3 linked regions of the Homo sapiens genome follow. The protein of the gene in region 2 interacts with the protein of the main gene of each other region in a pairwise test. Each region holds a gene or a part of one and is shown on either strand. Other genes may lie near its edges. The genes, in order: SCAMP1, GAD2 and DMKN.

Region 1 (3,654 bases), on a different chromosome or scaffold from region 2:
CAACTCTATTAATTTACTTAAAAATCATTGAATTGGGCAAAAGATATGAACAGACACTTTTCAAAAGACATTTATGCAGCCAACATGAAAAAAAGCTCATCATCACTGGTCATTAGAGAAACGCAAATTAAAACCACAATGAGATACAATCTCATGCCAGTTAAAATGGTGATTATTAAAAGATCAGGAAACAGATGCTGGCAAGGCCATGGAGAAATAGGAACGCTTTTACACTGTTGGGAGTGTAAATTAGTTCAACCATTGTGGAAGACAGTGTGGCAATTCCTCAAGGATCTAGAACCAGAAATACCATTTGATCAGCAATCTCATTACTGGGTATGTACCCAAAGGAATATAAATCATTCTGCCATAAAGACACATGCAAACATATGTTTATTGCAGCACTATTCACAACAGCAAAGACTTGGAACCAACCCAAATGCCCATCAGTGATAGATTGGATAAAGAAAATGTGGCACATATACACCATGGAATACTATGTAGCCATAAAAAAGAAATGAGTTCATGTCCTTTGCAGGGACATGGAGGAATCTGGAAGCCATCATTCTCAGCAGACTAACACAGGAACAGAAAACCAAACACCTCATGTTCTCACTCTAAGTGGGAGTTGAACAATGAGAAGACATGGACACAGGAAGGGGAACATCACAAACCAGGGCCTGTCAGGGGTGGGGGGCAAGGGGAGGGAGGGCATTAGGACAAATACCTAATGCACGCGGGGCTTAAAACCTGGATGATGGGTTGATAGGTGCAGCAAACCACCATGGCACACGTACACCTATGTAATAGACCTGCACATTCTGCGCATGTATCCCAAAACTTAAAGTAAAATAAAATAAAATAAATCATTGAATTTTCCCATAAGAGTGGGTGAATTTTATAGTATATACAATATATCCTAATAAAGCTACTTAAACAAAATCAAGGAATGGCAGTATATGATCATTATTTAAAATATAAAGGTAAATGCCCACATAAGTCAGCGGCAAGAACTGTTGGTAGAAAAGGATTAAAACAGGTCTTTATTTTACCAAAAAAGTATTTGCACAGCTACTTAAAACTGCATATAAAATAACCTGTATACAAAGATGTATCACTTTTATAAATATTAAAATACTTTTAAAAATATTCTCTACAAGCTAAAAAAAGGTTTGGGAGTACAAATATATATGAAAAACTAAAATTATGCTAGAGAATGAGCAAAAATTATCAAAATTCAACCTAATGGTTACCTATGGAGCAGGGAAATGGAAACATACCAGTGCTTCAGCGGTATTGATAATGTTCCATTTCTTAAATTGACCAGTGGGCTCACAGTTCATAGATGACTCATTATTATGCCTTTTAACTTGTGTTTCAGGTATTCTTTGGTATGCATTAAATACATCATAATTAAAAAGTGGGAGAAAGTACTACTTTGAAAATTGTCTTCAAAGCTACAAATAATGGCTCTGTAAAATATAATCTATAAGAAATCACAGTTCACTTATAGATCATAAAATGTAAATGATAAAATCTAAGAGGGTCCAAAAAAAGTTAAAAATTAATTACAGCTACCATTTATTCACCATCTATAATGCAAAACTTGCATACATTATCTCTAATCCTTCTTTCAACTCTACAAATATCCCTCATTTAAACCTAACAAACTGAGGCTCTGAGTTTTACTGCATGTGCTCAGAACCGCACAGCTTTTTAAGTGGGGAAGCCAAGATCACTAAGCATTATGCAAATACTCTTTCTCAGTCTGTTTCTAATAGTTACTCAACAACATTCAACAATAATGCTGCCTTGTTAATAATTACCTAATATTTTGATGTATTTGCATAATGCCTAGTGATTTGTGGAAGTACAAAATTCAGGACCAAGTTGGGGTTTTTTTGTTGTTTTTCTTCTTTTTTTTTGAGGCAGGATCTCACTCTGTCGCCCAGGCTGGAGTGCAGTAGCACGATCTTGGCTCACTGCAACCTCTGCCTCCCGGGTTCAGGCGATTCTCCTGCCTCGAGCTGGGATTACAGAAACATGCCACGATACTCAGCTAATTTTTTGTATTTTTAGTAGAGATGGAGTTTCACCATGTTGGCCAGGCTGTTCTCAAACGCCTGACCTCATGTGATCCGCCAGCCTCTGCCTCCCAAAGTGCTGGGATTACAGGCATGAGCCACCATGCCCAGCCCCAAGTTACAATCTTTGTAAACTACATAAATAACAAAATGACAACTTCATGTTTAATCCTGATACCTAATAAACTTAACTTTTAAAAACACATACATTTGAAACTTCACTATATAATTTTCCTTGAGATTTTTACAATGAGTTTACCTTACGGAGAACAAAGTCCTGTAAATATATCAATATAAGGAAATGCCAAAGATACATAACAGGAAGGTATATTAATGATTATAAATACTTTAATTCAACTTTCCCCATAAAAAGTATTCCTCTCGAGGCTGGGCGCAGTGGCTCATGTCTGTAATCCCAGCACTTTGGGAGGCCGAGGTGGGCAGAGGCCGAGGTGGGCAGAGGCCAAGGTGGGCGGATCACCTGAGGTCAGCAGTTCGAGACCAGCCTGACCAAAATGGTTAAACCCTGTCTCTACTAAAAATACAAAATTAGCCAGGCATGGTGGTGCATGCCTGTAATCCCAGCTACCTGAGAGGCTGAGGCAGGAGAACTGCTTGAACCCAGGAGGCAGAGGTTGCAGTGAACCGAGATCAAGCCATTGCACTCCAGCCTGGGCAACAAGAGCAAAACTCCATCTCAAAAAAAAAAAAAGTATTCCTCTCATTTCTACTCTGCACAGTGAAAACCAGATTATTAATATATTTGTATATACTCTAAAAGACTGAGATGCAGCTAAAAACTCAGCCTAGGGATCAATAATGCCACAAGTAAAAATGTTCCACCAAGCATTTTTATTTCAACTGCCAAAATGGGGGAAAAAAAAAAGATACCAAGTGACTTCAGGAAATAAAAGGCACAAAGCTGGCTTTTAGTCATTTATTTTGGCTACATAAGTAACAGAAGGTTTAAAATCCAAATTCCCTAGTCTCAGGTCACTTTTTTGAAAAGTTTCATAAAGATATCCTCACTCCCACCAGCCAGCATCATCACAGATCGATAACATATTGGTAATGTGATGGAGGTCATTAGGCAGAGGTTAGATGTCCAAAAAAAACAAAACAAAACAAACTAACAAAAAACAGAAAAAGCCTTGTGAGCCATGCTTAGATAACGAAGAAAATAACAGCAATAACTCAGATCATGCAAGGAGTAACTATGTTCCTTTCATTCCTCTCCAACCCATCTCTACAGGAGAAGCTCTCCCCGTTCCTTGGCAACCAATCTCCCATATTTCAATGTATCCAAAGGTTCTTTTCTCCTTTCCCTTCTCCCATCATTTCTTCCCTTCACTCCTCCTCTCATCATTTCTTCTCTTTATGCCATTTCTAAGTAATAATTTACTTCTTCATTGTCTGATACATTTTCTCTCCAAATTCCCTAATGTTCTCCCATCTCCTGTTCTCTTCTGTTTTTCCCTCATCTGTTTACAGATCTGGGTTTCTAACTCTGTGTGTGTGTGTGTGTGTGTGTGTGTGTGTGTGTGCGCGCGCGCGTGTGTTACACATTCTG
Region 2 (3,654 bases):
CCCCAATCTGAGGTGACAAGACAGTATTATCCAGATAATAAAGGCAACACAGTCAGAATTGATTTCCTTTTCTTTCCTCACATCCTGTGGCAGTATATGAAGTCCATACCATGTATAGGTCTCAGATAAAGACATATCACACTTGTTTGTTCAAGTATTTTAAATGATAAACACAATATTGCTGTATAAATGAAAATGGCCATGTCAGTTCTGATTAAAGCTAAAACCAAACTTTTCTAAGATTTGTAAAGAATGGGCACACATAAAGACCATGGCACTGGGAATTTGGGCTAATATTAAAAATAATCTCCCTTCTTTCCTCCCTCCCTCCCTCCCTTCATTTCCTTCCTCCCTCCCTCCTTCCCTCCCTCCCTCCCTCCCTCCCTTCCTCCCTTACTCTCTTCTGACCTGATTCCACATCTCCTTTCAAGATGATTTATTAAACTACTGGGACCTACTAGGCTTTTATTTGCTTCCTTCTTTGGGCTACAGTTGGTAAGGATTTCCCTGCACAGGCCTGAGCAAGGCTCTCAGCCAATTTGAAGGAGTACTGGGAAGGGGTAGGGGAGCGGGGAAGAAGAGCTATTGTTGTTGCTAGAATTGTTTTGCTGGAATTTCATATATAGGCACAAATTGTCCTTTAAAATTTTACCATCTCATTAACCTAAAAAGCAGCAGTTTATAATCTAGGATCTGTAACTCAAAAGATAAAGCATCCTGGAGTACAGCAGGGTTGGTTCACCAGGGCACTGGGCCCCACTGTCTTCTCCACGAAGGACAGCAGGTTGGATCAATTAGCATCTCTGTCTCTGAAGTGGAACCTTTGGGCCTGAGGCTCCGGATAGTCGGGCAGCTATGTGCTTATTCTCAGCAGGCAGTTTTGAGAAAGGAACTGCTTTCTAATGCTTTGTCTAATGCTTGGCCATTAGACAAAGCCTAGAATGGAAGGTTACTCCTTCATGAAATTCTGCGGGACAGATGAAAGAGTTTATTTCTGATTGTCATAGTGAACCCATTTGTTTTTCTAGACAGAAAGGGCCCAAAGCCATGTTCATATCAAGTTATCACTGTTTTTGCATATAGCCTAGGAGAAATAATGTAGGGGGAAGCTTATGAAAATTTCAGATGGCTGGATCCTGTGGTTATATTATAGGGCATTTCTCTATGTTATATTGTAGGGCATTTCTACCCGTTGAAGGGCAGGGCCTTCTCTCTTCCCTTGTATACCTGCAGTCTGAGTACTGAACTACCTGGTCCATTCAGAAATGGAGAATGTTCCTAAATTTGCATTTGCAGTCTGCATATCAATCTATTGTTCTCCAATCAGCACTTGGAATCTGACGATGTGTGACCCCATAAATATCTATGGAAGCTTTTGTTAGCTCATGTTTTTCTATCAGGTTCACAGGGAAAGAAGGATGTTTTAAAAATACTATTTTGAATTCTAAGGATCTTATTATTTCTGCATATTCTGGTCACTTTGGATCTCGATGGGAGATGGATAAAGGAAAATCTTAAGATAATGCCTCAAAATCTAGGGTGAGAGGCTCATTTCATGGAAGAAAAACAACCACCCATGGAATATAAAGTAACTATTTTGGGTCCCAGTGGTAGGGAGTCTAGTGGGAGAGACTTTGTGGGGAGGAATGGGGAGGGGATGGAAATGCGCAACTGGCCTGGAGGTAAATTTCTCTTTCCTGGACAGTGGCAATATGGCGCCAGGATGATGTCATTATTGTCCCACAGAGATCTCTTCTCCCAAGGCCAACTTTAATTTTCTGGGCTCACCACATTCTGGGAGTGTGCTTCATTCCTCTTTGCTCAGGCTGATAAGGTTTTATTTTTACTTTCTCTAATTAATTCAAATGACCTAATAAAAGAATACTATTTGGAAGATGCCTCAAGAACTAGCATCAACCTTCTGTTCAAAACAGGCCGAACTGGAAAGCAGAATAGAGACAATTACCCTAATTTAATCTGAGATGAAGCCTGGTTTGTCACGCTTGCAGAGTGAGTCCGCTAAGAGTAAAATGGGTGGAAAACTTAAAGGGGAAGAGAATCTTACTGCCAATGGGATCAATTATTTTAAAGAACTCGCAGTATTCTTTTGTGTTTGTCTTGAAATACTAACTTTAGAGATGTGATAAGCCATAACATGTATAGAAAGAAGCAATAATACCTTTTAAGAATTTCGTGGGTCAATGTTTCAAAATAACTTTGCTAAGTGTTTTATTGTGCCTCCATTAAGAGAAAGGAAAAAAAAATCTGGCTTAGATTTTATATCTGCCCCCGCAGTTTGTATAACCTATATAAAATAAAAATCTATATGTTACAAAATAGGATATCTTTTTTAATATATATATTTTCCTTTTGTAAAATTATATGTATTTAAATACATTTGAAATGTTGCTATAGGTAAATTAGAAATTTTTTTCTAATACTATGAAAAAGGCAAGAGTTTTTATTGTCAACATATATTTTATATTTACTTTGTCCTTTTTACTGCACCCCAAAGAACCTTTTATGATTCAGGGGCAATTTGGCACTATTCAGTCCTACTAGTCTGAAGTGAAAATAAAGTTTGCTTTGCACACTATATTAAAAGTAAGGGAAGTATTTATAACAATTTTAAGCTTTTCCTTATTGATTAGAACATAGCCTTTTGTCACGAATTCTTAGAGAGGTATTCTAAACTTAAGAAAGGACTTTTAAAAGGAGCAATGTCTTTTTTGTTTAATTTTTAAACTCTACTTTGACACCACAATATAGAAATAGATTTACTTTGGAACAAACTACAAATACATTCACACAGTTTGTGACAACTTAATTGTCTACCTAGAGAAGTGGAACAGCTTGGTGAGCAAGGTTATTATAAATCTTGTCCAAGGCGTTCTATTTCTTCAATCAGGAAGTCAATGTCTTGGTGAGTTGCCGCTGGGTTTGAGATGACCATGCGGAAGAAATTGACCTTGTCTCCCAAGGGTTGGTAGCTGACCATTGTGGTTCCATACTCCATCATTCTGGCTTTAATCACTGGAGCCACCTGTGGGACAGACCATATCAGCATGGTGACTTTCTCCTGGGACTCTCCCCTGAGTCAAAGAACCCAACAGCAAGCAGCGTCTTTAGTTTTTAGCTCAACAGTCAGAACCTTATTGTTTTCTCTTGAAAGAGTTACCTCCAAGTTTTCTTGGGATCAGAGAATTAGAACAGTCTAACACATTCAAGATCCTGCAAGTGATAAGAGGAATAATAAGTGATAGACTATCAGCTGCCTGCCACCTTGTCCTTGACTTTCCAGTTAGTGTTTTGGGAGGATGGGATGAATCTAGTATTGGCCCCAAGCTAAATGGGTTAGCAAGACGTTTGGGGGCATTTTCCCCCCACAGTAAATGTAAAAACATTGGAAATAAACAGTTCAGAGGATTGTTACCAAAATGTAAGTTTGAGTGTCAGGTGATATATGAAGATAAGCAGACTTTTGGCAACTTTCTTGAAACCCCAGAGCTTTCTAGTTTCTTTTCGTTCTCTCTTTGCAGTGCCTCACTTTATAAGATATTTTGAAAGATAATCCTTAATAATGATGATAATTAGCTGGGACAAAAAGCTGAACTCACAAGGACTTAACATATGTTTCATATCACAGACAGGATA
Region 3 (3,654 bases), on a different chromosome or scaffold from region 2:
CGCTCTGTCGCCCAGGCTGGAGTGCAGTGGCACGATATCAGCTCACCGCAACCTCCGCTTCCCAGGTTCAAGCGATTCTCCTGCCTCAGCCTCCCAAGTAGCTGGGACTACAGGCGCACACCACCACGCCTGGCTAATTTTTGTATTTTTAGTAGAGATGGGGTTTCACCACATTGGCCAGGCTGGTTTCAGACTCCTGACCTCAAGTGATCTGCCAGCCTCGGCCTCCCAAAGTGCTAGGATTACAGGCATGAGCCACCGCGCCTGGCCAGAAATAGGTTCTAAGAGAGAGCTTGAGAAATAGGAATTCCAGGGCATTGTGAGCCAGCACAAGGGTATAAGAGACCCCTGCTCCAGAAACCTACAGGGACCTTTTTGCCCACCACTGCTATCCAAACAAACCCAGATATCCTGGCTTGGGCTTAAGAACCCCCTGCATCGTCAGGAACATTACACTGCGTTCCCCTCTGCTCCCTCCTCACTCTGGCTGAAGTCCTCAGCTCCCTCACCCCACTGTGAAGAATGGGGCTCCATTCTCTCCCCTGCCCACCTCTGCCCTGCCCTGCTTTCTAGGAGATCTGCCCCTTGAGGAGCTGGCCCAGATGGATCCTGCCTCACTGCGATCACTCCCTCGACTGCCGCCCTAGATGGGCAAAACTGGCAGGGTGTCTATCCTGGCTCTCTGGGAAGTGTCTGTATGTGCCCCGGCTCTCCCATCAGACCCTAAGTTCCCTGTGACCCAGGAAAGAGTCTTGCTCCTACCAGAAACCGTTCTCTGTGAAACAGAGAGGCCAGATGCAGTGACTCATGCCTGTAATCCCAACATTTTGGGAAGCCAAGGTGGGCAGATCACTGGAGGTCAGGAGTTCGAGACCAGCCTGGCCAACATAGTGAAAGCCCATCTCTACTAAAAATACAAACATTACCCGGGTGTGGTGGCGGGCACCTGTAAACTCAGCTACTGGAGCGGCTGAGGCAGGAGAATCATTTTGAACCCAGGAGGCAGAGGCTGCATTGAGCTGAGATCGAACCACTACACTCCAACCTGGGTGACAGAGCGAGACTCCGTCTCACCAAAAAAAAAAAAAACAAAAGAAAGAAAGAAAGAAAAAGAAAAAAGAAAAGAAACAGAGAACATGAATCCACTGTAGCTGGGTGGGAACATCTGTACTCTCCTGTCTCCTCAATCTCCTTCCTAAAAGGTCAGACTTAGATTTTCCTGAGCCCAGTCTTCTCTCTTTTACATTAAAGGCCAGAAACTCCACTGCTCACAGGGGCCAGTCAGGTGGCTAAAATGACTGTGACAGGTAGGGACAGTCTGGCCACTAGGGAGTGACCCCCCCACCCATTCCCAACACCCCCCACCTGGGCCAAGCAGCAGCTGTTTCTCAGCTCTAGCCTAACCCCACCCCATGGAAATGGAACCCAGTGTTACCAAAGTTTTTGAAAGAAACCAGAAATCCAAATCATTATGTGAAGTCTCTCCATGTTTAAACTTTGACAATTAATTCATATTCTTAAAAAAAAAAAAAAATAGAGTGTCTCAAAAACCCATCCTCCAATCACGAATCGCAGCTTCTGCCGGGGGTGTGTCTGCATGGGTTGTCCACCTGTCCTTCCTCCCCTCCCTTCCACTCCAGCCCCCTCTACTCTAGAGGTGCCTGTGCTACTCAGGTATCAAAGCAGCCTGGCCAGGGGTTCCCCTGCAAGACGGAAGGGTAGGCAGGGAGGAAGGAGGGAGGGGTTCTGCGCCCCAGCTGTGTTTTTGTTTGTGCGGGAGAGACTAATGCCTGTCACCCCTGAGGCTCTCGGCCAGTGCTGGTTCCTTTCTCTGGGTGCCCTTCCTCTTGGGGCCTCTTAGCTCCACCTCACTCCTCATTCCATGTGCCCTCTAGGAGTCAATCTACTCTCCCCTTAACCTTCCCCATCTCAAAGGGGAAAGTGAGGTTCAGGACCTGCTCGGGTCTATATGCTGAAACAGCAAAGAAGCCCGTCCCCTCTGCTCAACCTCAATCTCAGCTGCTCCAGATTCTCCCCCTCTTTTCAGGTCTCCTCTGTCCTCCCTCCTCCACCCCCAGTGTGTTTAGTTTTTGTTTTTAGCACTGGCCTAAATGCTTCCTCAGTGGCCAGCATCACTGTTTCCCCAGCTCACAGAGCGGAGGTTTAGCTTTCTTCCCTATAGCCCTCTCCGACGAAGATGTCCAGCCCTTACCTTGTTTATGGCATCCCAGTTGATGAAACCCAGCTTGGATTTAAAATTCTATGGAGGAAACAAAAAGAAGAATGGCCAAATTGAGTCATAAGGTAATTGGCCGAGAGAGGTCAAGGGCCACTGCTGACTGTTGGTTTAGAAAGAGGACCCCAGACTGTGGGGCCAAGGGCAGGGGTTGGTTTTCCAAATGCGAGTGAACAGAGCCATCTCGCAGAACTCACCTTCCAGAAAGTGTCAAAGTTAAACATCCCAGGAGACGTCTCAGAGTTCTATGGAACCAAGGAGATATGGGATGAGAGAAGAACCCACTTTGTGAGCCAGAGTCGGGAGATCTGAGTGGCAGGAGGGGAGGCGAGGATTGTGTGACACCATGGTCCCAGCCCAAGGTGGAGTGTTGCCTCCACTCACCACAGTATTGACTCCACCAACAGCGTCACCTCCTCCACTGCCCCAGCTCGACCCTTGCCCCTGGGTGGGGAAAAGGGGGACCGATGTCCAAGGCTTATGCTTCCTATCATGCCTGCCACCTGTCAACCTGCCCCGGATTGCTTCATCCCCACCTCGGTCCAGGCTTCCTGTCCTCCTCTCTATAAAGCTGCCTTCTCTTCCTTACACAGCACCAAAAAGTTCACTTGGGAAAGCTTTCTTAGAATGGATTGCTCCCATGGAACCCCACCCAGTCCCCTGAATCTCAATATTCAGACTCTTGCCTCCATCCTGGTCTGTCCCCAAAACACCTCAAGCAAATGAGATTAGCTAACGTGTAGTCCCACGGCACGCCAAGCACCATGCCTTATGCAGCATCTGTCTCCAGAGTCTGGACTCCACAACACCTTGGTCTGGTGGTGACATGGAAAGCTGTACAGTAACTGAAGGCTGCGTGAGTCAGGTTTCACTGTCCTCATTTTACTGGAGGAAGCTCAGGCTCGGAGAGGTTAGCTGACTTGCCTGAAGATATACAGATGACATGATAGAGCTGGTGGTGATTTTAATATATATCTTAAATTTTTTTGAGGCTGGGCATCGTGGGTCACGCCTGTAATCCCAGCACTTTGAGAGGCCGAGGTGGGTGGATCACCTGAGGTCAGGAGTTTGAAAACAGCCTGGCCAACATAGTGAAACCCCATCTCTACTAAAAATACAAAATTAGTCAGGCATGGTGGCACATGCCTGTAATCCCAGCTACTTGGGAGGCTGAGGCATGTAATCCTAGCTACCTGGGATTACAGGTGTGAGCCACTGCACATGGCCTATTATTTTCTTTTTAAAAAGTAGAGACAGGGTCTTCCTACGTTGCTCAGGCTGGTCTCAAACTTCTGGGCTCAAATGATCCCCACACCTCAGCCTCCCAAAGTGCTGGGATTACAGTTATGCTGGTGCCTGGCCAGAGCTGGCTTTCGAAACCTCATCTTCTACCTCAAAGCTCAGTGACTTTCTCCTTC

The links.
Region 1: the proteins of GAD2 (region 2) and SCAMP1 interact in binary tests that used the Homo sapiens proteins (3 or more experiments, as listed by UniProt).
Region 3: the proteins of GAD2 (region 2) and DMKN interact in binary tests that used the Homo sapiens proteins (3 or more experiments, as listed by UniProt).

The regions. Positions count from the first base shown.
Region 1 is NC_000005.10:78,422,991-78,426,644, reverse strand, and holds part of SCAMP1 (secretory carrier-associated membrane protein 1), read right to left. Parts: intron 1-3,654. UniProt on the Homo sapiens protein: Functions in post-Golgi recycling pathways. Acts as a recycling carrier to the cell surface.
Region 2 is NC_000010.11:26,300,177-26,303,830, reverse strand, and holds part of GAD2 (glutamate decarboxylase 2), read right to left. Parts: intron 3,044-3,654; coding exon 2,870-3,043; 3' UTR 1-2,869. UniProt on the Homo sapiens protein: Catalyzes the production of GABA.
Region 3 is NC_000019.10:35,503,506-35,507,159, forward strand, and holds part of DMKN (dermokine isoform 2 precursor), read right to left. Parts: intron 2,681-3,654; coding exon of another isoform or gene 2,621-2,680; intron 2,482-2,620; coding exon 2,434-2,481; intron 2,261-2,433; coding exon 2,213-2,260; intron 1-2,212. UniProt on the Homo sapiens protein: May act as a soluble regulator of keratinocyte differentiation.